Linked DNA regions of Homo sapiens. The main gene of each other region encodes a partner of the protein of the gene in region 4 in a complex. Each region holds a gene or a part of one and is shown on either strand. Other genes may lie near its edges. The genes, in order: NME7, TUBGCP3, TUBGCP2 and TUBGCP5.

Region 1 (7,549 bases), on a different chromosome or scaffold from region 4:
CTCTAGGGACTAAAACAGCCTTGTAAGACTAATAGAAGGCCGCAAGGTTAGGACTATGGGAGGGACCTAAAATCTGCTAAAATATAGGCATAGGTAAGCAATAACCAGCTACTGTTCCTTGCTTTTCTATAATTTCTTACTATTCAGAAGTCATGTAGCCAGAGGTCACAAGATTTGTAACTTCACCAATTGCTCCTTTAGATAACATCACTATTGTAAAACCTAAGATTGGTCTTGAGATATTTTCCAGGCTTCTGCATTCTGGCAAACCTCCTGATGCCACCCAGATACATGCCTCATACCAAGAAACTGACTCTACTAGTCCTATGACTCTCACCTAGACAACTGACTCAGCACAGGAAGACAGTTTGGAAACACCTATAAATTCATCCCCAACCAATCAGCAGCGCCCATTCCCTACCAACCTGCCCACAAAATTATCCTTGAAAACCACAACTTCCAAGCTGTCAGGGAGGCGGATTTTAGAAATATTTCCCATCCTTCCACTCAACTGCCTTGCCTCCATTAAACTCTTTCTCTGCTGCAACTCCTGCATTCTCAATGTTTGGCCTTTCTGGGAAGTGGGCAAGAAGAACACGTTGGCCTGTAATAGGAGAATAAATAAGTTTGGCAAGCAACAAGAGGGTGCAAGTATTCTGTGTAGAAGGAATTGCAAGTGCAAAGTAGAAAGAGGAGGCATACTACCAGTTTGAAGTTGCTTGGTATGTTCAATGAAAAGCAAGTAGCTAAAAGGCAAGAGAATTTTTTTTTTTTAAGTATGGAAAGGGAAAGGCAAAAGCTAGACAGAAAAGTGCTTGTTCATGGAGGAACTTGTGTGCCATTCTAGACATTTTACTGTAGGAAATAGGGAATCTAGAGTTTTAAGGAGGTGAGTAAATCAACAGGTTGGGTTTTTAAAAATTCCTTCTTGTGGCAGAGAAAATAATGGATTGGAGAATTTCCAGACCAGACTGTAAAAGTCACTATTAAAATAATCACGAAATGAGGAGATGACAAACTAAAATTTGATCTAGTGAACAACTGAATATGGGAGAAATAGAAGAGGGAGGAATGTAGGATAACTCTGATTTCTAGTTTAGGTTATAATATAGTAGTAGCATTATTTAACTTGGTGAAAATAGGAGAAACCAGGAGGAAAGATAGCAAGTTCAGTTTTGGTCATATTAAGTTTGAAGGACATTTGAGACAGATGTGTCCGGGAAGCAACTGAGTTAGGCATTAGTAGATCTGAGAGGAAAATTGAAATTTAGAAGCAAAATCAAAGGTGTTAGTAGAATCCATGTGAGTGGACAAAATCACCCAAGGAAAATGTCTAGACTAAGAAATGAAAGTAATCAAGGAGTTAATTCCAAAGAATGACATTCAAAAACCAGGCACAGCCAGTAAAAGGAATTAATGACTATGAACCTCAGTTGTCACAAAGAGACTAAGTAATGTAAATTTTGAGAAGTAATTACTGTATTTGGTATTTAAAAGGCCATTAGAAACTTAAGCAAGAACAACTTTCTTGAAGCCATTAAAGAAGCCAGACAGAAGACTTTTGTCTGTTTGATATAAGTAAAAATAATATCCTTTCAAGAAGTTTACTGATAGATAGGAGGACTAGGAAATAACTGGATAAACACAGGATGGAGGACATGGTTTTGCTTTATTTAATTTTCATAAGATGTGTGACTTGAGCACTGAAGAGAAGAAACTGGAGAGGAAAAGGCTGAACGCACAGGAAAGAAAAAAACAACTGGAAGCGAAATGTAACAGATGGAAGCAAATGAGATCAAGAGCAAAGATGGATGGATTATCCTTTAATATCCCTTTCTCTACACTAGAAATACAAGACTAAAGGCTCGGCAAAAATATAGAGCAATGTGTAGGTTGGGGGCATGAGGTTGAAGAAATGGCCTGTTATACTCCATCATGTTTAGAAAGGAGAAATGAAGAGGGCAAAAGACAGGGTTTGTAAAGGGAAGGTTTGAAAATGTCTTCACAGAGAATGGGTCAGGGGAAAACTGGGGTAACCAAAAGGATTGCTGAGTAGTATGAAGAAACAAGGGGTGGTGGGTGAGGGCTCTGTTTCTAAATTCATAGCTATAACTATCTAAAGATCTTTCTATCCTCCAGTCCGTTATCCATAAGTGCTTAAAAGATATGGTAGTTAAGTGAATTAACTAGAACCCTCTCAAACATAGGGGTGAATTAAAATAACCTATAGGCTTATTTAAAATGCAAATACCGAGCTCCATTCCTTTCATTCAGAATTTCCAGGGGTGAAGCCCAAACAGTGAATTCCAGAAGCTCTCCAAGCAATCCCAGGAGAAATTTCTGTTTAAAAAAAAAAGAAGAAGAAAGAAAAGAAAAGAGAAAAGAAAAGCAAGCACAGACCTAGAAGGTAACCAACTGGATAGAAGAGCGCTGATCCAACATACACCTGTTAATGGCCCTCGTGGGGGCGTGGGGCAGTGCTCTGCCACTCAGAAAAGCAAAAAGACTCCAAGATCTAGGGAGATTCAGATCAGTGTTGAGACAGTCACATACACACCACCCCATACTCTTAATAAAGCGCGTTAATGTGAATCTGTGAACATGAAAAATGCCATGATGAACAATGCAAACACATAATGTTTGTTCAAAACAGGTTATTAGACTCGATGCCTTACCCTAAATTTTCTGTTTCATTACTCTAGAGACTTAGTAACATTAGTGGAATTCAGGGTGCTGTAAGAAATACGGAGAGCGAGGAGACTGCAGGAACAGCCCGTGGGAAGGGGGAAAGAGATAACGGGGAGAAGGTCGGGAGGACCGGACAACTTTAAGTGCCCATCCGCCCGAAGACTTGGAAAGCTAAGTAAGTAGGACCCCAGAGCCGTTCTTCTGGCATCCCCTGGCACTCACCATTGTCTCAGGATCTCAGCACTAGAAAATAGGTATCGTTGAGACAGGAAGACACCACCACCACCACCATCATACGGTTACTCAGGCAACAAAGCCCCGCCCACTGTCGCACGAGGCGTGGGACGCCACCGCCCCACCTCTTCGTCCTTAGTGGCTGGGAGTAATCTCAGCTGCGTTCATCCAATCGACAGACCCGCCCCTCCACGCTGTCGCCTGGGGCTACGAGACGCCATTATTCTGTTTCCGGCAGTTTTACTTCCGTTTGTTTAACAGCTGGCCCGGAAGTTTAAGTGAATATGCGGCTTGGGCTCCAAAAGTTGCTGTACGGTATTTTATTTTAAAGTAGAAATCTGTCCGCTTTTCACTTACGGAGGCCTTACAGTGTGTGTTCTGTGTTACTTGAGTTTATACGCACTGCAGAATTTGTTTACCCTGCTCTTTTGGAAACGTATTCCGGAAGCGAAACCCTGAGTAATCGGAAGTGGTTAGGAGTGAGAGAGCTGCTGGATATGCGGAGGGACTGGGCGGGTCGGCTTCCGAATGGAAGAGGTCTGTGAGAAGTTAACCTGGTGATACCGATCCGAAGAGCCTATCAAGTGAAGCCCCCTGAAATACGGAGAATAAGAATCTTAGAGGTAAATCCGAGGACAAGCAGGTATAACTAAGGATGTTGGAAAGGGACGGAGGTCTGGCTGGAGCTCGGTGGCCAGTAGCTTTGGATTTAGGGAAAGATTGTTCCGGGAAGACTTTTTCAGACAGGGATGAAACTTAGGTTTCGACTTCCCCGGACAGCAAAGTTGACAGGCTTGTCGCTTCCCGGCCTATCGCTTTCATACCTGCTCACTCCCCCTACTTACTTCTTCACCCCCTCCGCTTCATTTGGCATTTGCCAGCAGGCACTCGCTGTGCCTGTACGTTTCGCAGAGCAGCTATCAAGGGCAGTTTCAGGGATCGTTACTCTTACGAAGGGTTTTTTGGATACCTCTTTTCGGAGCAGTAGAGTGTAAGTGTAGAAAAGTTTGTGACTGTTAAGAAAGTTAGTCGTCGGGTTCACTAATTGAACTGAGTTGTATCTAGTACTGAGAACGATCTTTTTTTGTAGTGAAACCAGTTGTCATCTAGTGTACAGTTTGTCATATTTATATCATTGCAGTAGCATCACCTTCTTATATGTTCTCTGGTAAATCTGAGTCTGTACTGTAAGACAATGTATACATTTCTGAAAGCATGGGCTCGATATGTTTCTCTTTTTACTTTTGGAGCTACACTATTTTAATTTTAACTTTTTATTACCAAAAAAGTATAAATTATGTTATCTTGAGTAATATTTTTTGTCGTTTGTTAAACATCTAAACAGAAGCTCCTTTTTGATATGTGTGTGTGTGTATACAAATTGTGTCGGTATGTCTCCTAAGAAAGTAATTACTTTAAAATTCCTCTTGTCATATGGATGACAAAACCACCACAGTAACTTCATTCCCTTTGCTTGGCTAAAATTCAGGACATACTTCTGACAATTTAGAGTGTATTGGTGAGGATGGTGAAACGGAGTATTTAGAAGTAAACCACCCCTAATTTTTTTTTTTGAGACTTTTAGTAGACATAACAATGCCTTCTGTGAGAATGGGATATAAGGGACATTTCTCTTTCTAAATGCATGCGTACTAAATACAGAAGCAATTAAAATATCATAACTTTTAAATTGGAGGTACTCTATGTGTTTATATGATATTTTTAAAATTATTTCATATGCATACATTTCTAGGTTGTTCAGCAGAAGTCTTGGAGTGCATTTTCAGTGGTTAAGGTGAAAAAATGACTACTAAAAATTTAGAAACCAAAGGTAAGTGGCTTTTTTATAATTGTTTTTAAAACATGACATTTATGACGATGTGAAGGAACGTTTGAGCCAGATAACTAGATCTCATGGACCCCCTTGGGAATCATTTGTTATTTCAGATCCCTTTATGTTTATTTTTTAGTGCAGTGTTTATATTTCAGTACTTTAGATGTACAAGTGAAATTTAACATCATTAGTTAGAATTTATTAGGTGACTACTCTTAAACATTTAATGTTAATGCAAAGTTTTTAACAGCTATATTCCCTATACACTAGAAGATTACGATTTAAATAAGAATACACATTTTAAAGATTTAAGTAGATAGACAAAGCAACTAGGGTGTATCAAAGATCTCTTTCATGTTGTATTAGTTTGCTGGGGTTGCTGTAACAAAGTACCACAAACTGCATGGCTTGAACAACAAAATGTATTCTCTCAGTTCTGGAGGCTAGAAGTCCAAGATGAAAATGTCAACAAGGCTGTGCTCCTTCGGAAGGCATTAGAGACACTCTCCTAGCTTCCAGTGGCTTGCTGGCAGTCTTTGGTGCTCCTTGTCTTGTAGACGTACCACCCTTATCTCCGCCTTCATATTCACATGGCATTCTCCCTATGTGCATGTTTCTGTGTCTAAATTTACCCTTTTTATAAAGACAGCAGTCATATTGAAAAAAGGAACCCAGTCTACTCCTGTATGATTTCATCTTAACTAATTACATCTGCAGTGATCCTGTTTCCAAATGAAGTCTCATTCTGAGGTAGTGGGGGGTTAGTACTTCAACAAATAAAGATTTGGGGGACACAATTCAACCCCTAAATTGCTAAATACAGTAGTCACTTTTTAGTCCTAGCTGATTTGTCCTCTCTAATATTTAATACTGTTGACCATTCCCTGCCTTTTGAGATACGTTCTTTTGATGACTTCCATGACATCACTTTTATTTTCAGTCTACTCTGTAGCCTTTCACTGTCCAATGCGGTAATTACATGTGGCTATTTGAATTTAAATTAATATTTTTTAAAAATTAAAAATTCAGTTTCTCAATGACGCTTGCCAAACTTCAAGTGGTCGGTAGGCAAATATGGCGAGTAGCTATTTCAATCATTGAAGAAAATTCTGTTGGACAGCCCTGCTGTAGCTGTATCTTCTCTCTTTCTTTTTCAGCCTCTTCTCCTTCTTATTTATCTTTTAAATATCAACACTTTCCACCACTGTTTCTTTTCTACTCTCATGACTTCAGTAATTATCTATATAAATGACTTCCAAATCTATCTATATCCCTAATCTCCTTCTTTATGATTCATACCCTTATAGACTACTGCCTACTGGCCATCTTCACATAGCTGTAGGCAACAATTTTAACATGTCCCATAGTGAACTTCTCCTGACCCAGCTTATTCTTTGGATGGGTTGAGTTCTGCATGCTAGAACCATCAGTTAAAGATGGAAAACTGTTTTCTAGATGCCAATTTTTCAGCAAACTGACCTCCAGCCACAAACCCTCTCTAAAAGCAGGTTGAAATAAGTTTAAGAAACAAGGAAGAAAGATCATGCTAATAAATATTTAATTGAATTTAATTCAGCTTTGCAACAGCATTTCATAAGTCACCAGAAGGCTTTTATACCATTAGATAAGCAAGTCAGAGACTGTAATGAAAGTAATAAACTGGGGATTAATGGGAAATAAGAGCAGTTAAATAATTAATGTGAAAGCAACCAACATGGTGCTTGTCAAAAAGCAAAAACTAAATACAATATTATGATTAGTCATTAGAAGTACTGGCAAGTTCTCTGTGAAATTAAATTACTTTTTAATATTTATTATTACTTGTTTTTAATGAGGATTAGAGTTATAAGGCACTTTAACAAACATTATTTTGTGTGATCTTAATTATCCAGTAAGGAAAATAATTCTATTAGCCATATTTCTATTTAATCTGTCATCTGATGTTAGTGAACAAAAGTTACTTGTATTGCATGGCCTGTGAAAAGGTGTACTTGGTTGACATTTGTCAGTTGTCTGTGCTTCCTGTAACTGCCTCAGGAGATAAGTACGGTTGTTTGGTATAGCAACAGAACTTCCTCTCAGAAGACATTTGAGCAGCACTGTCATCATAAGAGGGTTGTATCATGGCTGCTAGTGCTGTTTCTGAAAGGGAAACATACAGTAAATAGTAACAATTAGAAACTTAAAATCCAAAGCTTTTCTTGGATGTGGGATTAAAATTGAAAATAAAGCTATTAAAGTCAACTAGTTTAGTAATAGTAGACCAAATAGAAAGGTCTGAGACATTTAAATATTTTTGATTCCATAAAATAGTCTAACACTAGTTCTGTAGAATAATAGGTGTTAGGTAAAAAAGATATTCCATGAGCAGATAAATTTGATAAATGCTGTATTAAAAGAGAGGCTATACTATGGGACCTCTCAGAGTCCTATAGTATAACTTTAATACTAATGTACATTGAAACTCTGTAGAGATGCAGTATGCAACATTGCCCACACTTATTTGACCAGGGATCTCTATCCATAGAGCCTGTGGTAAGAAGAATGCTTAGATTCCACTTCAGTAAATCTCGATGTTACTCTTAAGTCCATTGTATGTAACTTATTTTACTAATTTAATAATAACTAAACTTTATTAGGTGATATGGGTGACATTTAAAAAGACTCTTGATTTAAAATTACCACATGACAATCCCTAATTTGTTTAACTGTATCATAGCTGAATTTGTATATGTTCTGGAAAGTCTTTCAGACTATAACCAAGTTAGGAATTAATGATTTAGGGTAGAGGAA
Region 2 (7,393 bases), on a different chromosome or scaffold from region 4:
TACATTTAACTCTGGAAGGGAAGATGCCATGAGAAATGTCAGGGAGCAAAATGAAAAGGTCATAGTTTCATTTTTAGGTGAACATTAACTACAAATATAAAAGTAAAATTCAACTTTAAAATATATATTTTATTTTTCAGCTTTATTTCAAACTCAAGCTAAAGTTAAGTGTGATTTGACCAACTCCTCATACATGAAGACTGTAAGCCCCACAGTTTTGGAAAGAAATGCCAGTTTCTCTTATGAATAAAGCACAGAACATGACAATGATGCTCTGCTGATAACCAGAGAAAAATGAAGGGGCTTTACCTTTTGAAAATTTTACATTCTTTTCAGATTTTATTTTAAAAAGTATGCTCGAAGAATTCAACTCATTTTCTTTTAATATAATTTATTCTTTTAAATACAAGATTCCTTATCATGTCAAATATATTACTTATTTATAGAAATCAAAATAGTGCCTTACTTTAGCAAGTCCATTAAGTGCCTTATAAAGTCTCCTTGACCAAGAAGCAGGTACCGCCTCATTGCCTGCATGTGGTCCAGCAAGCTGTACTTTTTATTGAGAACATCCAACAGGTATTTGCTGGTCTCAAAATAAGCAGCATCAATCTTCCCCTGAAATGCATTTTCCAAGTCTGTGAATAGGTCTGCAGCTGTAAAGAACAACAGGGAAGAGCACACATGCATATGTAATTTGTATTTCCACAGAGGAGAAATGAAGGCACATACATCCAGACTCAGGGCCAACCACTGCCTGTGGCATCAGTAACAGACTGACCGCAGGCACAGACAGCTGGACATTCCACAAAGGAGACCAGAGCCCTAAGACCACACACATGAAAACAATTCTGCCAGCTGGGTTCACAGCAGACACCTACATGTGTGTCTTCATGATTTCCAAATCCCTTAATACACTGTAACTAACCGTAAATCTCACCAAAACACACTGGTAATAGGGCAAGTCAGTGCTGAGTCACCCGTCCATACCCATAAGATGTTTCCATAAATTAGTCTTAAGACCAAAACAGCACATGCAAATAAGCTTTGTGAATTGTACAACTCGCAAAAGTTGAGTAGTAGTATCATGCACCATAGAGTGAACTCTACGGAGATTGGTGGAGATGTCTAGGGGACAAAACCAGATTGTCACCAATAAAGACGCCTGACTCTAAGCAGTAACATAGCGGAAGAAAGCATTTCCATAGCTTTCTATTGAGAAGAAATTGCAGGTGGAGACTATACACATAACAGAGCTTCTTACAGTGCTGATTTACATCTGCAAAGCACAAAACCATTTTTAAAACTTATATGAATACTTCATTTCATTAAACCCACAATAATACTTAAGCTAGACAATAACCCCAGTGGGAGGAACAACCTCAGACTGAGAGAAGGAGGCAAAACGCTAGCTGAAGACTAAGCAAGGACAAGAAAGGCGAGATCTTCTGATTCAGAGTTTAAGTCTCTTTCCACTATCTGAGTTACCCAGTTTAAATATACCAGAAGACTCTTAAGATTTGTTTGTCCTTCCGAATAAGAAAGCAGTTAAGACAGGCCTATTTTAGTGTTGCTATTATTCCAATTTCACACTAGTAGCAAACAACTAAGATGCTCCCAGTGAAGAAACTGTAGTTATCTGAGGATGAGTGAGGTCTGCCTGGAGTCACGACACCACGGAACCCCTTGATGAGCTCACCACAGTCCTGTTTTAAGGGCATGGGGTTCTATTTCCATTGATCTACGTAGTTTTAATGACATAAAGATTTTTCTCTAGAAATGTTTTCATTACACCCTTGTTTGAGTCATTAAAAATTTTCATTCCAAAGAGAAGGTTTGAATCAGTCTTAGCCCAAAGCAGCCTATGAAGACACAGAACCCAGAGCCTCCTCGGAACTCTCTTTGCTCCTTCAGGGTTGAGGCATCTCTCGTGCTCAGTTTTTAAATTTTCACTATTTATTCTTTATTCACACTTTTAAATCTTCATAACTTTTTCACAGATAAAAATGAATTTGACATGTTCTCCTGTTTTTTGACCATTACTAGGAGTCTTTTAGGATTTGCATCTTCTGTCTTCCCAGTTATACTATAAATACTCAACAGCAGAAACTTTGCTCTCCGCAGACCCTGGCAGCCATGGACAGGACGACGGGGACCACAGGAGTCGTCACAGAGAAGCAGCAGCGTCAGCAGCAGCAGCGCCCCGTCACCCTCAGCATCTGCAGGGGACCAATCCCACGACCCCCACAGACACCAAAATTCCCTGATGCTCAAGTCTCTTCTACAAAATGAAGCAATATTTGCACCTAACCTACACACATCTTCCCATATACGGTAAATCATCTCTAAATTACTTATAATATCTAGCGCAATGTACATGCTATGCAAATAGCTGTTAAATTGTCTTGGTTTTTTGTGTATTTTTTTAGTGGCTGCCTTTTTTTAAGTGTTTTTGATCCTCAGTTGATTGAATCTGCAGATGTGGGGCGGTGGGTACAGGGGCCGCCAGCAGCACAGCAGACGCGGTGCTCACACAAGCAGCAGCAACCTTCATGGAGAGCCTCCGGCACAGCAGGCGCATGGGGACGCCCTGTCCCAGGCACAGCCCATGTGTGCGCCGCCTTCTCTAGGAACTATGAAAGGTCACAACTCGAACACAACTGCTCTCCTGGTTCTTCTTCCTTCCACCTCTTCAGTGTAGAAGCATTTCCCCAAAATCTATATTGGATCACATCTATCTCTATTCCAGGAACAATCTGGGGTCTATGTACCCCCCCACAAAAAAATACATGTAAAATTATGTCTGAATGCTTTAGGGTGAGAGGGCCCATGGCTCTCACATGCCTGGAAAGGGTGTCTCCCCTGGACCACACGGGAGCTCTTGCTACACCATCCTGCCTTGTCCTGAGTTACCATGGTGAGATAAGTGCTTCCAAAATCTCTATATTCGGCCCTGACTTTTAACCAGAGTTTCAGTATAGCATTTCCAATACATGCTGGAAGCTTCCACTAGTAAGTCCTCTCAGCTACTGAAAACCAAATTGCCCGAAATGACATTCCTCTCTCAGTGCTATGCTCTCCCGAAATCCCCTGCTGCCCTTCCGACTTGGCCTCACGAGCTCAGAGTTCTAGTGCCATCACTGACTCTTCCTGATCCCCAGCCCTCCTGTCCAGAGAGCCAAGTCCTGTTAAGAGAACATCTGTCATTCCAGTAACACCTGTAGCTAAAACCATACCCAGTAACCTATCCTGCTTCCTACATGAGGTCCTAGTCTGTCTCTCTTTAGTCTGTCACATTATTAAATAATAACTTTTTATTTTCACTACAATCTTTAGATAAGTCTAATTCGTCCTATTTCTCTTCTGCACTTCCATGCACATTATTCCTTTGTCCTGGGCTGCGCAATAACCCACAACCAAATTCTCCTCCTTCTCCATGGCCAGTGCAATTCCTGCCTCTTTCCAAAGCCTTCCTGTTGAGCCTTGCCTGAAAATACCCAAAGCGCTTCACCTGCACATCTCACGTCCCTGATCACTTTCACCTTTATTACTGACTACTGGTTATTTTACTACACATCTCCTCTCCAAGACCAGACTAATAAGCTCATGAAAGGAACAGTCATGGTGAAGTCATTGTCTCTTTCCTGTAGCTACCACAGTGTCCTACGCAAAGTAAATCTTTTGAATGAACCATGACAATATAAATAGCAAATACAGCCAAAACTGGAGAGCTATAAATATAAGTTAGCCATACACAAAACATCATGAAATTACTGAGGGTGGGGCAGGCGGCAAATGGGGAAAAGGAAGAGAACGAGGGAAAGCCTCAGCACTTCCCACAGGCTGAACGCTCATGCGACATTCTGAATGCAATAAACACAATAAGTGCAATAAGTCCTGGCTCTTCTCCAAACAAAGCCTTTGCATCCCAAAGAATAGGCTACCATTAGCAATATTTTTTCTGTTATTTCTTATTTTGGCACACTGCCACTTTATCATTTTAAAACAGCTATACCTATTCCAACACTTACTGTATAACTGTATAAAAAGGAAATTAAAAATTTACACAGTACTATATATATACATACATAATACTATGTATTAAGGTGTATCAGAGAGTAATTCTAATAATCTATAAATCCTATGGTACAAAAAATACTTTTAAGTAATCTGTAATATCAGCACATCATCATCACCTCCACTATCATCACCGCTATCACCATCATCATATCATTACTATCACCATCCATCACAATTATCATTGTCATTACTATCATCACATCACCATCATCATTACCACCATCATCACCATCACTATCATCACCACCATCACTGCCACCACCACGCCATCATCACCACCATCATCACCACCCATCCCCATCATTATCACTATCATTACACCATCACCATCATCACCACCATCATCACCATCAACATCATCAACACCATCACTGCCACCACCATGCCATCATCATCGCTGTCATCACCACCCATCCCCATCATCACTATCATCACACCATCACCATCATTACCACCATCATCACCATCAACATCATCACCACCATCACTGCCGCTACCACGCCATCATCACCGTCGCCACCCATCCCCATCATTATCACTATCATCACACCATCACCATCATCACCATCAACATCACCACCATCACTGCCACCACCATGCCATCATCACCACCCATCCCCAACATCATCACATCACCATAATCACACCATCACCACATCATCACCATCATCATCATCACCATCATCACTACCACCAGCACACCATCATCACATCCCCATCATCCATCCCCAACATCATCACATCACCATCATCACACCACCATCATTACCCCCATCATCATCACCATCAACATCATCACCACCATCACTGCCACCACCACGCATTCATCATCGCCATCATCACCACCCATCCCCAACATCATTATCATCACATCACCATCATCCCCATCATCACACCATCACAATCACTACGTCATCAACATCACTGTTACCATGAGTATCACCATCCTCACATCATCATCAACATCACACCATTGCCATCATCACCACCCCACCAGCATCATCATACCGTCCTGGGGTGACTCTGCAGACTTGGTCACAGCTATCATCTTTGTAGTGGGAGTCTGATCATGACAAACTTGGTGCAAGAAATTTATTGATTTTCCTATCAAAAGGACCTAAAAAGAAAAACATTCTATGATTACTTTTATGTAAATTTAAAACGACTGCCCAAATCTACAAATATTCGTAAGCTACAAATTGGCTATTGATTGAAAACTAACAAGAGCATCTGCTACAGTATGGAGCGAATTCTAGTAACTCAAAGATATATTGAACACATACTATACTGATGTATTCAATTAACATGCACTTACTTCATCTCCAGAACGTTAACAATCTCAAAACGCATGAAATTTTAACTGAAAATTGGTTTTGTCACATAATCTAAGTATACATAGCCATAAAACATCAAAATCACAAAAATCTCTTCTAATCCTACCTTCCTAGACTGATCCATCGTCATAAACGAAGGAATCATCGATTTCCTCAAAGTATACTTGTCGTGCCACAGTCGATCTGTTTTAACTGTTGGATCTGATGCTACAAAAAACTGAAAGCAAAGGGGCATGGAAATGTTCAAGAGTGATATTTATGGCAAAATATTAACCAACAGCAACATCAAAGAGTAAGTTATTCTAGAAAGCCAAGTTCTCCAGACACAGGGAGTCTTACCTATTTATACAATAAAACTTGTATGAAACACAGAAATCTCTCTAAATTGAACTATGTATTTCCTAAACTTTTAAAACTAAAGTATAACAAAAACAAGTTATGTCTTCCTTGGAGATTCAGAATGTCCATTAGTGCCTCTGCAGCATAATACTGAGGCTTCCTGGGCCACACGGAGCTCTTCCTCAGTAACGGTGCAGGCTTTTGGGGTTCCCCTCCCTCACAGGCAGCAGCTGTGTGTCTCCTCCCATCAGTCTGCCTGCCCTTGCAGTCTCTCTTTTGCAAAGCCCCAAAGCCTGGAACACAGAGGTGCCCAGGCCGGCGTCCTCTGTTCACAGACAAGTCCCAAGCTCTATGGGCAGACCTTGCTGTACATGTACCCATGTGTACAAGGGGCCAGCACCAGCCAGGTGGCACTGTAGAAGTGACCCCTGTGTGGCTCCCCCAGGAACCATCTGTGCTCAGGAGCTTTCTTCCTCACTGGCATGCAGCTCCCCTGCCCTGACCCTGACGGGCACCTACATCACTGCCGTTAGAAAGGAAACTGAGCAGTAAGGAGAAAATTCAATTGCTGTTGCTTCCAGTTTATTTGCCACTACAACAATGCAGCCATTCTCATTTTTCAATCATACACCCTAATAGAATTGCACTTTTATTTCTATAAACTTGTTTTATAAAAGCACAACTGCTGAATTAAAGTAGCTTTTAGTTTTTATAGACAATGCCAGGTTTCCTTTCCACACAGCTGTGTAGACTGACGCTCCCACGGGCAAGATGTCCTGTTTTTGCATCCTGGCTCATTTTAGATTTTGCCAGTCAGGTGGAATCATGGTTATCCTATATTGCTGTCATTAACCAAAAATGAAGCCGAGCATATTTTCATAGTTCTAATTGCCATTTGCTTTTCTTCTCCTGTGAATGGTCTTTTCATGCCCTTGACCCATCTTGCTATTCATTTTGTTCTCTCATCAATATACAAAAATTCTTTGTACATTAGGAATAGTGACCATTTGTGAATCATTAAATATTAGAGATTTAATTTTTCCAAGTTAATCATTTGCCATTGTTTATAGTATGGTCCATATTTTAGTTCTGATCTATTTTTTTGTTATATGTAGATAAATGTCAGTCTTCCTTTATGGTTTCTGAGTTTCCTGTCTTCCTAAGATCTTCCCATTCCTAGATTATGAAAATATTGTCCATCATGTTCTTTCAGTATTTCTATTGAGTTATTTTTATTACCTAGATCTGTTTTTTTTTCTTTTTGAGACAGGGTCTCACTCTGTGGCCCAGGCTGGAGTACACTGGCATGATCTTGGCTCACTGCAACGTCTGCCTCCCCAGCTCAAGCCATCCTCCCACCTCAGCCTCCCAAGTAACTGGGACCACAGGAGCACACCACCATGCCTGGCTAATTTTTTGCATTTTTGGTAGAGACAGGGTTTCACCATGTTGCCCAGGCTGGTCTCAAACTCCTGAGCTCAAGCGATCTGCCTGCCTCAGCCTCCCAAAGTGCTGGGATTACAGGTAGGAGCCACCATGCCTGGCCTATTACCTAGATCTTTAATTCCTCTGGAACTTGGTATAATCCTGGCACACAGTATGTTATAAGGGGGAAGTCTACGTCTTCTCCTGGATGGCAT
Region 3 (7,393 bases), on a different chromosome or scaffold from region 4:
TACATTGTCCAGGCGGGTCTCGAACTTGTGGGCTCAAACAATCCTCCCTCCTCAGCTTCCCAAAGTGCTGAGATTACAGGCATGAGCCACTGCACCCGACTGGACAAATTCTTATGAAGCTCTGCCATCGACCCCTTTTTTCAACACCCTAGAGGCACAGACCGGCTGCAAAGCACCTCTGGTCCCAGCAAGATGTGGCTGTCCGCTCTCGGGAGGAGCTAGTGTCCTGCACACCGACCTGGGCAGTCTCCATGCCCGTGCAGTCACCACAAGGCTCCAGAGAGGGCTGAGGGACAGAGCCAGCATCCCCTGTGGGGTGGACGGCAGCGCCGTGCAGCCCCAAGACAGGAAAATGAAGCAATGAAGCATTATGGATCTAAAGCCACCAACGTGCGCTTCCAGATGACACTTCCAGAAGCCTAGAAAGCTGTCTACCAGGAGGGCACAAGGGGGGCGCTGCACCACTGGGCAGAGTGCAGCGAGCGCTGCTTCAGGAGGGCATGCGGGGGCAGAGGAAGAACGCACCACTGGGCGGAGTGCAGCGAGTGCTGCTTGGCGGTTTTGTTGCTGATCCAGACGCTGCAGAGCTGCCGCTCCACGTGCTTGCAGTAGAACATGTGCCTGAAGAGCATCTGGTAGCGAGTGAGGGCTTTCCTGCAAGAGACGTGGCGGCACCTCAGGTGGGCCTCCGTGACCGGCGGCGTCGTGGACACGGCGTCTGTACTCCACAGTCCGCACCGTGGCCCCCGGACAGCCCGTGAATCTCTCGGACACTGAAGGCCGGGGAGAGCCGCCTTGGGTCCTCTGTGGGACGAGGTGGCCACCGCGTGGCACAGTTCTCGCTTCTGCCAAACCTGAGTGAAGATCTGGCAGGTGCCCGAGCAGCCGACCCGCACCTGTTGATGATGAGCGAAAGGGGCCACTTGACGATGTAGTCGAAAGAGAAGGCCTCCAGGCCGCTCAGCGCCAGCTCCGTGGGGTCGGCGTGCGCCATCGCCTTCTCCTGCTTGGTCTCGATGGCCAGGACGCGCAAGAGCTGAGTGATGAGGTCATGGGGCATCAGGTCGATCTTGGAGGGAAGGAAATGAAACAAAGCATCCAGTTTTAAGGAAAAGACCCGAAGTCGCATCCCGATCGCCATCCTCGCTCACAGACCCAGCGCTGACGTAAGGTTCCCTACATTCCGATTCTAAATATCAGAGGCTTTTCAAAAACCCAAACATCTACTGATAAATCAAATTCAAAACTGAACCACTTCCCATCAGAACAAAACAACAAAAATTCAGATGAATTACTTTGTAAATACCCACTGCTGCTGTGGGTGGTATAAGGGAAAAACCGCTAAGGACGGTGAAAGAAACGTGATTCCTTAGGACGAAAACCTTTGTACCATGATAAGCACCAGGCCCAGGTTGAAAAATGAAGCATATTTGACGAGGGACATAATAGTTATTATAAGCAAGTAATACTGTCCTCACGTTAATCACTCGAGTATTTGCTAAGTTCCAACCACCCGCAACAGAGTTCCTACAAAACCATCGCACAACGACAGGACAGGAAATGAAGGGCAGGGGATAAAGCAAGAAGAAACAAGCAGCGGACAGACGAAATCGTGACCATCACAAACGCAGAAATGAGCCCCTGACATCACTTGTCCATCAAATAGCCAAGGTGGGAGCTTTCGCAGGTGTGCAGACAGCAGCGTCCTGAGACTGGACTCCATCAACTCCAGCAAGGTCAGCCTAGTCATACAAGGGCCATGTATTGTGACCCAACAATTTCACTACCAGGAATTTTTCCTACGAAAATATTCCTGCTCCTAACAAGAGACCCCAAAATATCTGAATCAAGAATAGACAGAATGACAAGGAGAAAAGCAGTTCTTCAGTGACAGGGAGACTCGGTGCCCTACTTCTAACCACGGAGAGAACCGCCGGACAGACGATCAGTGAGGAAAGACACGGCCTCAACCCACCTGCAGAACACCACCCCAACAGCACCGAGGGCGCGTCCTCCTCCCGCGCGCACGGAACCGAGGGCACATCCTCCTCCCGCGCGCACGGAACACTCTCCAGGATGGATGTGGGGCCACTACACAAATCAATACATTTCACAAAACTGAAATCACAAAAAGTCTGTTCTCTAACAAGGAGATAAAGTTAGAAACAAGCAACAGAAGGAAAACCAGAAACTTCACAAACATGTGGAAGTTAAACATAAACCACCCACGGCTCCAACAAGAAATCAGAGGGAATCAGAAACACCTCCAGACAAACAGAAATTATGACGCTAGGGGATCAGCGAAGGCTGCACTCGGAGGGATGTTTACAGCTGTAAACTAACTTTTCAAATTAAGAAACTAGAAAAAAGAAGACCACACTGAACCCCTAAGCAGCAGACAGGAGTAACAAAGATGACAGAAGAGAGAAAACAGAAAAATACAGTCAACAAACCCAAGAGTTGGTTCTTTGAAAAGATAATGAAATCGACAAATTTCTAGCTACATCAGCTAAGACGAAAGAAGATTCAAATTACTAAAATCAGAAAAAGAAGGGATATAACTACTAATCTTACAGAAATAAAAAGCAGATACTAGAAACCCATGAACTGTGCACCAGACAAGATGCGAGACAGACAGCCGACCAAGAGGAAAGGGACTGAGCAGACCTGTGGCCAGCAAGGGGCCAAGTCCCCCTCAAAAGTCTCCAACAAAGACAAACCCAGGGCCCAAGAGCTCCCAGGCAAACCCTGCCAAACAGCCAAAGAATCAACACCCTCCTGGGGAGGCGCAGGTGAAGGATCGCTTGAGCCCAGGGGTTCAACCAGCCTGGGCAACACAGACCCCCGTCTCTATTAAAAATAGTAAAAAACAGATAAAACATATATATATTTTAAAAAACGGCTGGGCACGGTGGCTCATGCCTGTAATCCCAGCACTTTGGGAGGCCAAGGTGGGTGGATCACCTGAGGTCAAGAGTTCAAGACCAGCCTGGGAAACATGGTGAAACCCCATCTCTACTAAAAATACAAAAATTAGCTGGGCGTGGTGGCGCGCACCTGTAATCCCAGCTACTCGGGAGGCTGAGGTAGAGCATCACTTGAACCCAGGAGGTGGAGGCTGCAGTGAGCTGAGATCATGCCACTGCACTCCAGCCTGGGTGACAAGAGCAAAACTCCGTCTCAAAAAAAAAAACAAAAAACAACGACAACAAAAAGGCAAAAACAAAAAGAATTAACACCACTCCTGAAACCCTTTCAAAAGACCTGAAACCCTTTCAAAAGACAGATGGAGGGACACGTGAAAACAATTCCACAAGGCCAGCATGACCTGAAAGCCAGGCCCGGACGAGGGCACTGCAGGAAAACCCGAGACCCGCGCCCCTCCAGAGCACAGGCACAAAGACCCCCGATCCCGGCAAGCCGGCCCCGGTAGCCAAGTGAAGGAAACAGACCCTGCGGTCGCCTCACCGGGACGGGGAGTGGGGGACAGGGCTGGCCTCTGCTGTGCTCTCCTCCCAGCCCCTCCGAGGCCTCTGCCACAGGGGACAGCCCCCGGCACCCCCACCCACCTTGAGGTCGTCCTTGAAGGGGTCAGTGTTGGCCGTGCTCATGCGCAGCGCCAGCTCCAGGAGCGCTTCCAGGCGAGGGGGCGTGATGTCCTCCACCGGCTTCCGGAGCTCCTCCTCCGCGAGGTCCATGAAGTGCACGAAGAAGTCGCCCTGGTCCATGAGGAAGTAGCGCTTGATGGACCTGCGCCAGGGAGCAGGCGTGAGCAGGTGCCCACCCGCAGGTGCCCGCCACAGCCAGGGAGCAGGCGTGAGCACGTGCCCACCCGCAGGTGCCCGCCACAGCCAGGGAGCAGGCGTGAGCACGTGCCCACCCGCAGGTGCCCGCCACGGCCAGGGAGCAGGCGTGAGCACGTGCCCACCCACAGATGCTCGCCATAGCCATCACCCTAAAACACACTACAACAGGCTAAGCGCTTGGCTCTCAGGCAGGGGCTGTGCAACCACCACGCAAGCTGTGGCAGGAGGAGCTGAGAAGGGGCTGGTGGGCCCTGGGCAAGGAGGGGAGCTGGGGCCCCTGGACAAGGTGACCGGGGGCCTACACCACCCACTGTGAGTGCCAGGTCCTTGAGCTAGAGACCATCCAGCAGTGCCCACTTTCAAAAAGACAAGGCGGAGCTGCCAGAAGAAACCCAGCGATCTCAGCCCCACGTCCCACAGGTTCCGGTTTCAGAGGGAGGTGAGTGCCCGCACAGGGACAGGGCACGGAATCACCTGAGGTGAGCCACCAGCTCCTTCTCCTCCATCAGGAAGTCCAGCAGCACCTTGCTGGCGTAGTTAAACGCCTTCTCGATCTGCTCCACATACGCCCGCTCTTTTAACGTGTAGATGATCTCTTTAGCCACCGGGCAGGTGACGTCATGGCCACACTCTCTGACCACATTTAGATATTTTCCTGAAAACACAGAAATTCAAAATTTTATTCTCCACATGGTCGATCTCAGGCCCCAGCTGTCTTTGTCTACACAGGAGGCAGTGGAATGGACATTGAATGGGCTCTCCACACGGTCAGTCTGAGGCCCCAGCTGTCTTTGTCTACACAGAAGGCAGTGGAATGGAAACTGGGCTGCATGAGGCGGCTCCACACCCTTGCTCCTTCCCGGTAAATCACTGTCAGCGGCTACAGACTGAGCTGGTGGTGGCAGGGCTTTGCCGTGGCTCTGCACATCTGGAATTTTCTAACCAAGGGCACAGAAATAATTTCGAACAGGCATTATGAGAACCGGATGGCTAATCGCTTCCCAACCCTTTCGTGACGGCCCCGATGTGCCGAGTCCAAGTCCCCGCGCCACTGCCCTGGGTCCAGGTCAGGCCCTAACCTGTGTGGTCAGAGATAGGAAACACTGCCGGCCGCCAGGCGTGTGTCTTTGCTGGTTTTTCCTGACATGCTAGCGGAGTTTTAGAAATCAGAAACAGAAATAGAGAAGGCACCTGTGAGAGAGCCTCGCAGGGTCAGGGACAGAGTCCCGGAGATGGAAACCTGAGGGAACCTGGCAACAGAGACCATCTCAAGGCCTAACTCAGCGCCGCAGCCCAGCCCACGGGCCAGTCCTGACCTCAGCCCCGCATTCACGGACACCAGGGCTCAGGGCAACCACAGGGTGAGGCACAGGCTCCCGGTGGGAGGGCCTGGGCTGCAGGAGACTCTCCAGGCAGAGCTGTGCTGCGCACCCCAAGTCCCCGCCCGCTGCGCCGCACCTGTGCTGAGGATCTTGTCCGCCATTTTCTGCAGGAAGGACGGGATCTGCTGCTGGACGATGGTGTACCGCTGGTCCCAGTACTTGTCGTTGTAATCCTCCTGGATCCTCTCCTTCCGCAGCTCGTGCTCCTCGACCATAAACTCACTAAAACCACAGGGAGCGCTTCGGTCACAGGCAAAGCAAGGGCGCCTGAGGCAGGCGACACTTCTCCAGGCCGGCAGCGCGCAGGGACATTAACAGAGGCCAGCACACTTCCAAGTAACGTTCCACAAGGGCCGAGCCTAATCTACCAGTTACTTCTCAACTGTGGGCTAAAACGAACCTAGGGGCCGGGCACGGTGGCTCACGCCTGTAACCCCAACACTTCTCGGCTAAAACGAACCTAGGGGCCGGGCACAGTGGCTCACGCCTGTAACCCCAGCACTTTGGGAGGCTGAGGTGGGCAGATCACGAAGTCAAGAGATCAAGACCATCCTGGCCAACACAGTGAAACCCCGTCTCTACTAAAATACAAAAAATCAGCTGGGCGTGGTGGTGTGCACCTGTAGTCCCAGCTACTTGGGAGGTTAAGGCAGGGGAATCGCTTGAACCTGGGAGGTGGGGGTTGCAGCGAGCCGAGATCATGCCACTGCACTCCAGCCTGGCAATGGAGCGAGACTCTGCCTCAAAAAAAAAAAGAAAAAAAAAAAAAAGAAAACCAACAAACCTACAAACCTCGCTCTGGAACGGAGTATTTAACCTGGGCTCAGGGAGAATGTACGGTCCGCAGAGATAGGTGGGAAACTGATTTGTCTTTATCTGCACCCACCTCTTTTTGGAATTTAGCATTTCCTTCCATGATGAGCCCAGGCAACAAAATGATGCTCGTGTGGGGTGCGTGGGGCCCTGACACCCAAAATGATGCTCGTGTGGGGTAGGCGGGGCCAACATTGACAGAAACCAGACATCTCCACGTCATCATCTGAACAACTTCAAACATCATTTACGCACTTCAAGTGTGAAGGTGCTTTCTTTAAAGGTGCCCATTATACCAGATTTTATTTGGTCCATTAGTAAAGAAATAACATTTCCACATCACTAATGTATTTTTTGAAAATATTTCAACAACGGTATCTTGACGTAATAGACATAATACAATTCTTTGGGAACTAACATATTTTTATCCATTTAAATATATCGCACTGAAGAGAAGCCGACAGACCCCACCAGATCAGGAAATCCAAGCACCAAAGAGGTTGAAGGACCTAATTGGAGGCAATTTAATGTCCTGCACACAAAAGAATAAGGCCATAAGCAGCTGGGCCATTCCTGCCCTGGGCCCCATGGGCAGCAGGCGGACATCTGCCCGGGGTGTGCTTTCCTGAGACCACAAGCAAAGGAAGGCCAGAGCCCCCAGAGAGGGCAGCACGCGCCCTCCGTGTCCCCCATGTCCCTCCGTGTCCCCCATGTCCCTCCGTGTCCCTGTGTCCCGGGGAGCCCTACCTGTACGGGAGAGGGCAGCATGCACCGTCCGTGTCCCCCATGTCCCTCCGTGTCCCCGTGTCCCTCCGTGTCCCCGTGTCCCGGGGAGCCCTACCTGTACGGGAGAGGGCAGCATGCACCGTCCGTGTCCCCCATGTCCCTCCGTGTCCCCGTGTCCCTCCGTGTCCCCGTGTCCCGGGGAGCCCTACCTGTACGGGAGAGGGCAGCATGCACCGTCCGTGTCCCCCATGTCCCTCCGTGTCCCCGTGTCCCTCCGTGTCCCCGTGTCCCGGGGAGCCCTACCTGTACGGGAGAGGGCAGCATGCACCGTCCGTGTCCCCCATGTCCCTCCGTGTCCCCGTGTCCCTCCGTGTCCCCGTGTCCCGGGGAGCCCTACCTGTACGGGAGAGGGCAGCATGCACCGTCCGTGTCCCCCATGTCCCTCCGTGTCCCCGTGTCCCTCCGTGTCCCCGTGTCCCGGGGAGCCCTACCTGTACGGGAGAGGGCAGCACGCGCCCTCCGTGTCCCCCATGTCCCTCCGTGTCCCCCATGTCCCTCCGTGTCCCTGTGTCCCGGGGAGCCCTACCTGTACGGGAGAGGGCAGCATGCACCGTCCGTGTCCCCCATGTCCCTCCGTGTCCCCCATGTCCCTCCGTGTCCCTCCGT
Region 4 (7,393 bases):
TCACCAACATGGTAAAACCCGATCGCTACTAAAAATACAAAAATTAGCCAGGCGTGGTGGCACATGCCTGTAATCCCATCTACTTGAGAGACTGAGGCAAGAGAATGACTTGAACCCAGGAGGCAGAGTTTGCAGTGAGCCGAGATCATGCCACTGCACTCCAGCCTAGGTAATAGAGCAAGACTGTCTCAAAAAAGAAAGTGCTGGGATTATAGGCGTGAGCCACCACGCCCAGCCAACTGTGCCACTGTTGCCACAAACCCCCTCACTGTAGGCCACTGAGGCACTTGCAAACATCACTAAAGTGGATTACAACTGAAGAAAGTACATGGAGACTATACTACTGCATTTGTCCAGAACCAAGGTGAATGCATCCCACTGAACCCACACTCCAAGACCCATTCATATGAATAACTCTTTACAAAACGTACTCCATAAAATTGGAAAAGGTGACTTTCCCACCAGATGTGTAGAAATCAATGTAGAAATACATCAAACATGAAAAAGCAAAGAAACATGACACCTCCCAAGAAAACCAATAATTCTCTAGCAAGAGACTACAATGATATAGGAAATGCCGGAAAAATAATTCAGAATTAAAATCTTAAGGAAACTCGGTGAGATACAAGAGAACTCGGTGAGATACAAGACAGTACAAATAAACACTCAACAAAATCAGGAAAAGAATGATTTGAATGAGAAATTCAACAGAAACAGATGTTTAACAAACAAATTTTACAGTGAAAGAATTCAATGAATGAGGCCAGGCACGGTGGCTCACGCCTGTAATCCCAGCACTCTGGGAGGCCAAGGCGGGCAGATCACTTGAGGTCAGGAGTTCGAGATCAGCCTGGCCAACATGGTGAAACCTCGTCTCTACTAAAAACACAAAAAATCAGCCGGGTGTGGTGGCGGGTGCCTATAATCCCAGCTGCTCAGGAGGCTGAAGCAGGAGAATCACTTGAGCCAGGGAGGCAGAGCTTGCAGTGAGCCCAGATTGCACCACTGCACTCCAGCCTGGGTGATGGGAGTAAAACTCTGTCTCAGGAAAAAAAAAAAAAAAAGGCAAATGATCTGAACAGACATTTCTCCAAAGAAGTAATACAAATGGCCAAGAAATAGATGAAAAAATGCTCAGCATCACTAATTATTAGGGAAAATGCAAATCAAAACCACAATGAGGTATCATTTCACCCCAGTCAGGATGGTTATTTATCACGAAGACAAAAAATAAATGCTGGTGAGGATGTGGAGAAAAGGAAACTCTTACACAATGTTGGTGGGAACATAAACTAGTACAGACACCATGGAGAACAGTTTGGCGGTTCCTCAAAAAACTACAAATAGAACTACTATATGATATAGCAATCCCACTGGTGGGCATTTATCCAAAGGAAAGGAAATCAGGATATCAAAGAGACATCCGCACCCCCATGTTTACTGCAGCACTATTCACACAGCCAAGACATGGAATCAACCTAGGTGCCCAACAACAGATGAATGGGTAAAAAAATTGTGAGATATATATATATATATATGTATATATCTTGAAGATAAAAGAGTGAATCCTGTTGTTTGCAGCAACACTGATGGAAATGGTGGACATTAAGTGAAATAAGCCAGGAACAGAAAGTTAAACACTGCATGTTCTCACTCATCTGGTAGCTAAAAAATGTTGATCTCGTATTAGTAAAAAGTAGAACAGGATACCAGATGCTGGATTTTGTAGGGGGAAGGGAGAAAGAGGAAGATATTTGTTAAAGGATACAAATAGCTAGCTGGAAGGAATAAGTTCTAGTGCTCTGTATCACTATGGGATGACTATAGTTAATAATGTATTATAGAGTTGCACATAGCAAAGAAGAGGATACTGAATGTCCCCAACATAAAGAAGTAGTAAATGTTTGAGATGATGGAAGTGCTAATTATCCTGATCTGATCACTATATATGTATCAAAACATCACTATGTACCCCATGAATATGTACAATTATTATGTCAATTTATAAAAATAATAAAAGAAAAGAAATGGCAGGGGATTACTTTTTAAAGTTCCAGTCCTAAGGAATCCAGAGTGAGGAAAATGCATGTGGAACTTATCGTCACTGCCTTTTCAAACACAGCACTAAAAGTTTTCAATGAAGACAATCTTTTAAAAAATCAAGAGCAGCATGGTTACTAATTCAACCATGACGATAATTGCCACCGAAATAAGAGGGTTTGATGACTTGCAAACTACAAAATAATTAGGTATCAGGATGACAAGAGCGAGTAGGGTCAGGTGTCCCAACACCAAGAGAGACACAGGAAGACGGAACAAGTACCTCTGGCTCCTGCCTGGCAGGTGGTGCTCTCCGCACACTGCAGGTTCTTCAGCAGCTGCATCGACTTGCCAGCCATTATGATCTGCTTCAGGACAGGTTTGAGGAAGGACACCATGGTGTGCTGCCTGCTGGAGGGCCCCTGGTCACTGCCGGAACTCGCACTAGCGTTATCACTCATTTTTTCTTCATTTTCTGTCTTTTCTGATACGCTATATAACGTGTAAGTTGCATACCAGAAGTCTCTGTGATTAACTGGAACATTTTTGTTTCTAAAGAGATTCAAAAGAATTTTAAACTCTTATTTCTCTTTCTTAAAAACAGCATACTTGTTCTAGTTTGTTGTCCAGACATTATAAAACATAGTATTAATTATTAGTAAACTGAAGCAAACTTTAGGCAAAATGGGACAGTTTTAATCTCATCTCAGTTTAAAGAGAAAAGTGAATAAATACTTTGAATAGTGTAAGTAAAATTTAAGTAGAAATAGTTTCCTGAATTGGAATTATTTAAAATATGACTAATTTGGTCCTCTTTAGAAGAAGAATAAAAGTTTATCCATTTACCATCTGCTGTGAAACTAATTTGCAGACTTCTCTATCATTTTCCCTACAAAGATTCTTAACTGGACTACTTTTAACAATAAAATGATGGTCAATCATCACCCTAGAAGAACAGTCAGAGTCCTATTTTTCACAAAAATTCTCATGTGAGATTGATGAATCAGAACACAGTGACAGATATGAGATTGAGTTGAAGGAAGGGTCAGTTCACTTATGTGAGCATTGCATACATATTGCTACCCTTCCAGAACACTAAAGACTTAAAGTTATCCTTCCTGATGAGCTCAATGGATAGCTATCAATAGAAACCATATATCTAAATATACCGCATAATTTAAAATTGGGCTAAAAGAGTACAAATAGCTCTACATTGTTTATATGATTCTATTCAGAAAAATCAATTAACTGAAGGGAAATTGTCATAAATGGATTAAGATTTTCCTTGTTTTGTAAAATATACTAAGGTAAAAGAAATCAGTAGATAATTCAGAGAAATAAATATATTAGAGGCATACTCTGTAATATTTCTGTATCTCTTTACTGATAATTTACAATGGAAATAGCTGAAACCATATGATATCATCTAAACTCATTTTATGGGAAGCAGTGTGTACTAGCTAGCCATAAATATACTACCATCCAAAAATATAATTTGCTTAAGAAAAGTTGCGGACTGACAAAACTTGGACAAAGATATTTCTAATCAGCTGGTATTACTGATGCCTTCCGTAAAAATGAGATAGAACTTGCCTATGATGACGACAAGTTCTGTGATGTGAACTGTGCTTTCTCAGTACTGTCTGAAACTAACGAAAGCATTTGATTTTCATGGGGAGGAAACTGGTGATGCCAGCCCCCAGTGACCTTGTGCTCTGCTGCAGCTCACCTCTGGATGATGAACTCCCTGGCGCCATCCCACAGGTGCCCGTGCACGATCCACTCGTCCACCGTCTGCAGGTAAGGCCGCACCGTTTCCACCCAGAGAGAGAAAAGGAGGGAGACCTGAGGCAGAGAGTGTGCACGGTCAGCTCTCAGGGTTCCCTGGTCACTAGGATAAAAGGAGGTTTAAACATTTCTGAAATGCCTTTAAAAAAGTGATCGGATTTCTATGTTTTTTGGGGCACAAAGAAATTAAAAATCCAAAAACATACACTATAAAATCCTTATGAAAAACTCACCTAAATGCCGGGCGTGGTGGCTCACGCCTGTGATCCCAGCACTTTGGGAGACCGAGGTGGGCGGATCACCTGAGGTAAGAAATCGAGACCATCCTGGCCAACATGGTGAAACCCCCTCTCTACTAAAAATACAAAAATTAGCTGGGCATGGTGACACGCGCCTGTAGTCCTGGCTACTTGGGAGGCTGAGGGAGGAGAATTGCTTGAATCTGGCAGGTGGAGGCTGCAATGAGCCAAGATCGTGCCACTACACTCCAGCCTGGCAACAGAGTGACACTGTCTCAAAACAAAAAGAAAAAAAAAAGAAAAAAGAAAAACTCACCTAAATATGGGATGATCATATTGTTTGTAGTCCAGACTGGGAAACTTGAGAGTGAAAGTGACACAGAGGCAGCAGGTGTATCCTGAGATAGCCCAGGCAAGCGAACAAGGTTTCCCTATCTAAATCCTATTACTAGCAAAGCATCCATTAAGGATGAGGAAATTGGCTGGGCATGGTGGCTCACGCCTGTAACCCCAGCACTTTGGGAGGCTGAGGTGGGCAGATCACAAGGGCAGGAGTTTGAGACCAGCCTGGCCAATATGGTGAAACCCCATCTCTATTAAAAAAAAATACAGCTGGGTGTGGTGGCTCATGCCTGTAATCCCAGCACTTTGGAAGGCCGAGGTAGGCGGATCAGGAGGTCAGGAGCTCGAGACCAGCCTGGCCAACATGGTGAAACCCCATCTCTATTAAAAATACAAAAATTAGATGGGCATGGTGGTGGGCGCCTGTAATCCCAGGTACTCAGGAGGCTAAGGCAGGAGAATAGTTTGAACCCAGGAGGCAGAGGTTGCAGTGAGCCAAGATCATGACACTGCACTCCAGCCTGGGCGACAGGGCGAGACTCCATCTCAAACAAAAAACAAAAAAAAACCCCAAAAAATTAGCCGGGCATGGTGATGTGCGCCTGTAGTCCCAGCTACTCAGGGGGCTGAGGCAGAAGAATCACTTGAACCTGGGAGGTGGAGGTTGCAGTGAGCCAAGATCGTGCGACTGCACTCCAGCCTGGCAACAGAGCAAGACTACGTCTCAAAAAAAAAAAAAAAAAAAAAAGAAAAAAAGAAATATGGTATTAAATTGGTGTGAAAAAAAGTTATACCAACAAACTAGAAAATACACCTAATGTACATACCCAACTAAGACTGTAGCATTCTAAATTACAGCCTCTAGTTAGATTTTTATTTTTAAATCTATATATTGTTTGAGACAGGGTCTTGCTCTGTTACCCAAGCTGGAGTGCAGTGGCACAAACATGGCTCACTGCAGCCTTGACCTTCCACACTCAAGCCATCTTCCTGCCTTAGCCTCTCGAGTACCTGGGACCATAGGCATGTGCCTCCAGAGCTGGCTACCTTTTTTGAGACAGAGTCTTGCTCTGTTGCCCAGGCTGGAGTGTAGTGGTGCGATCTCGGCTCACTGCATCCTCCCGGGTTCAAGCAATTCTCCTGCCTCAGCCTCCTGAGTAGCTGGGATGACAGGTGTTCGCCACCACACTAGGCTAATGTTTGTATTTTTAGTAGAGACGGGGTTTCACCATGTTGGCCAGGCTGGTCTCGAATTCCTGGTGTCAGCACACCTGGCTACTTTAAAAATTTTTTGTAGAGACAGGGTCTCAGTATGTTGCCCGGGCTGGTCTCAAATTCCTGGGCTCAAGTGATCCTCTCACCTCAGACTCATATGTAGCTGGGACTACAGGCGTGAGCCACTATGCATGGCCTAGATTTGTATTTTTTAAAATACAATATAAAATATATAACATAAAATTTATCTTAACTGTATATTTTAAAAAATTTTAATTTAACTAATTTTTTAAAGACAGAGTCTTACTATGTTGCCCAGGCAAGTCTCAAACTCCTGGGCTCAATCAATCCTCCTGCCTCGGCCTCCCAAAGTGTTGGGATTACAGGCACGAGCCACTGTGCCTGACCCTCAGCATTTTTAAGTTCAGAGGTTTTAAGTACATTCATATCGTTGTGACAAATCTCCAGAACTTTTTCATGTTATAAAACTGAAACTCTGTACCCATTAAACAACAGCTCCCCATTCCCCAGCCCTTGGTAACCAGCATTCCACTTTGTTTCTGTGGATGTGTCTACTTCAGCTATCTCATGTCATGTTAGTTACATGTTAGTGTTTATGTAAGAAAGCGTTATTGTAAATATCTATACACATCAGGTAGGTACTTCTCACAGCTTGCCTTGTCCTTGCCTCATCCTTCTGAGGATCTTGGCAATTAGAGCTGAAAAGCCAGTTTCCTACAGCCTTAAATTTGGAAGTTAATTTAAAAACTCTGAACTGTCTGACGAGTCATCATTCAAGTATCAACAAAGAACTACCATCAGCTGTCTATCACTCCTCTGCTGTGCAGCATGGAGTCACACACTTTAGGCAGAAGTCTCACTTACGGTTTGCTCAGAGGCTTCTCCAACATTGTCATATTCAAGAATGGCCTTGTACAGGGTGTTAAGCAGGTGAGAGGCCCGGACGACATTTCGAGTATCAGGTGGAACTTCTGCTACTCCAGTACTAAACACTTTGTGCAGAACCTTGAGCTGAGACAATCGAGGTGCCAACTTGTCCACCACTATTGCAAGAGTTATTGTAGTATCTGCAAATATCAATAAATCAAACTCAACAGCAAGGAAAAATACATGCATCTAAAATGTGACATAAATGCTGGCAAATCATCAGGCTTATGGACAGGCAGGGCAAAATGGAGGACGGTGGATTTTAATCTCATACCACAAGGACCTAATTTCCCTAAGGAAGAACTCCTGCAAGTCACAGAGAAAAAGACAACTCAGCAGAAAAATAATGTATAAAGGAACTGACAGTTCATAAAAAAGGAATGATGAGTGATTCTAAAACATACAGAAAGTCACTTGACCTTACTTATAATAAAAGAACGCAAATTAAAATTACACTAGGTAAAACAAAACACCTCCCAATGGGCTAATGTTACAGAGAGGGGTGAGGGAGGCTGTGCCTACAAAGGGCTGCACAAGCAAGCTCCTGGGAGGCGATGGCACAGCTGTGATCTGAACATGGAAGTGGCTATGTGGAGCTAGACATGTGATAAACTATACATGAATATACCACACCCACCCCTGTTCAAAGCAAGTTCCTGCGACACTGGTGAAACCATGTCAGGTCTGCAGTTTGGCTAATGTGCTGTGTCAATGTCAGTTTCCCAGTTTTGACCATGTACTGTCACTATGTAAGGTTTTACCACTGGGGGAAGCAAGGTCATGGGAACACAGGGCCTCTCTGTACTATTTTTTGTGGTAGT

Evidence for each region.
Region 1: TUBGCP5 (region 4) and NME7 share a complex: the UniProt entries of both Homo sapiens proteins name them as parts of the gamma-tubulin ring complex.
Region 2: TUBGCP5 (region 4) and TUBGCP3 share a complex: the UniProt entries of both Homo sapiens proteins name them as parts of the gamma-tubulin ring complex.
Region 3: TUBGCP5 (region 4) and TUBGCP2 share a complex: the UniProt entries of both Homo sapiens proteins name them as parts of the gamma-tubulin ring complex.

The regions. Positions count from the first base shown.
Region 1 is NC_000001.11:169,364,798-169,372,346, forward strand, and holds the start of NME7 (nucleoside diphosphate kinase homolog 7), read right to left. Parts: upstream 3,001-7,549; 5' UTR 2,914-3,000; coding exon 2,911-2,913; intron 1-2,910. Other genes in the region: BLZF1 (golgin-45), read left to right, coding at 4,726-4,753. UniProt on the Homo sapiens protein: Possesses an intrinsic kinase activity. Displays 3'-5' exonuclease activity with a preference for single-stranded DNA. Does not seem to have nucleoside diphosphate kinase activity.
Region 2 is NC_000013.11:112,521,854-112,529,246, forward strand, and holds part of TUBGCP3 (gamma-tubulin complex component 3), read right to left. Parts: intron 5,632-7,393; coding exon 5,521-5,631; intron 5,198-5,520; coding exon 5,089-5,197; intron 657-5,088; coding exon 467-656; intron 12-466; exon of another isoform or gene 1-11. UniProt on the Homo sapiens protein: Component of the gamma-tubulin ring complex (gTuRC) which mediates microtubule nucleation.
Region 3 is NC_000010.11:133,284,560-133,291,952, forward strand, and holds part of TUBGCP2 (gamma-tubulin complex component 2), read right to left. Parts: exon of another isoform or gene 6,843-7,393; intron 6,749-6,842; exon of another isoform or gene 6,274-6,748; intron 5,411-6,273; coding exon 5,265-5,410; intron 4,462-5,264; coding exon 4,281-4,461; intron 3,751-4,280; coding exon 3,570-3,750; intron 1,070-3,569; coding exon 897-1,069; intron 655-896; coding exon 526-654; intron 1-525. UniProt on the Homo sapiens protein: Component of the gamma-tubulin ring complex (gTuRC) which mediates microtubule nucleation.
Region 4 is NC_000015.10:23,015,450-23,022,842, forward strand, and holds part of TUBGCP5 (gamma-tubulin complex component 5), read right to left. Parts: intron 6,713-7,393; coding exon 6,510-6,712; intron 3,932-6,509; coding exon of another isoform or gene 3,886-3,931; coding exon 3,770-3,885; intron 2,593-3,769; coding exon 2,324-2,592; intron 1-2,323. UniProt on the Homo sapiens protein: Component of the gamma-tubulin ring complex (gTuRC) which mediates microtubule nucleation.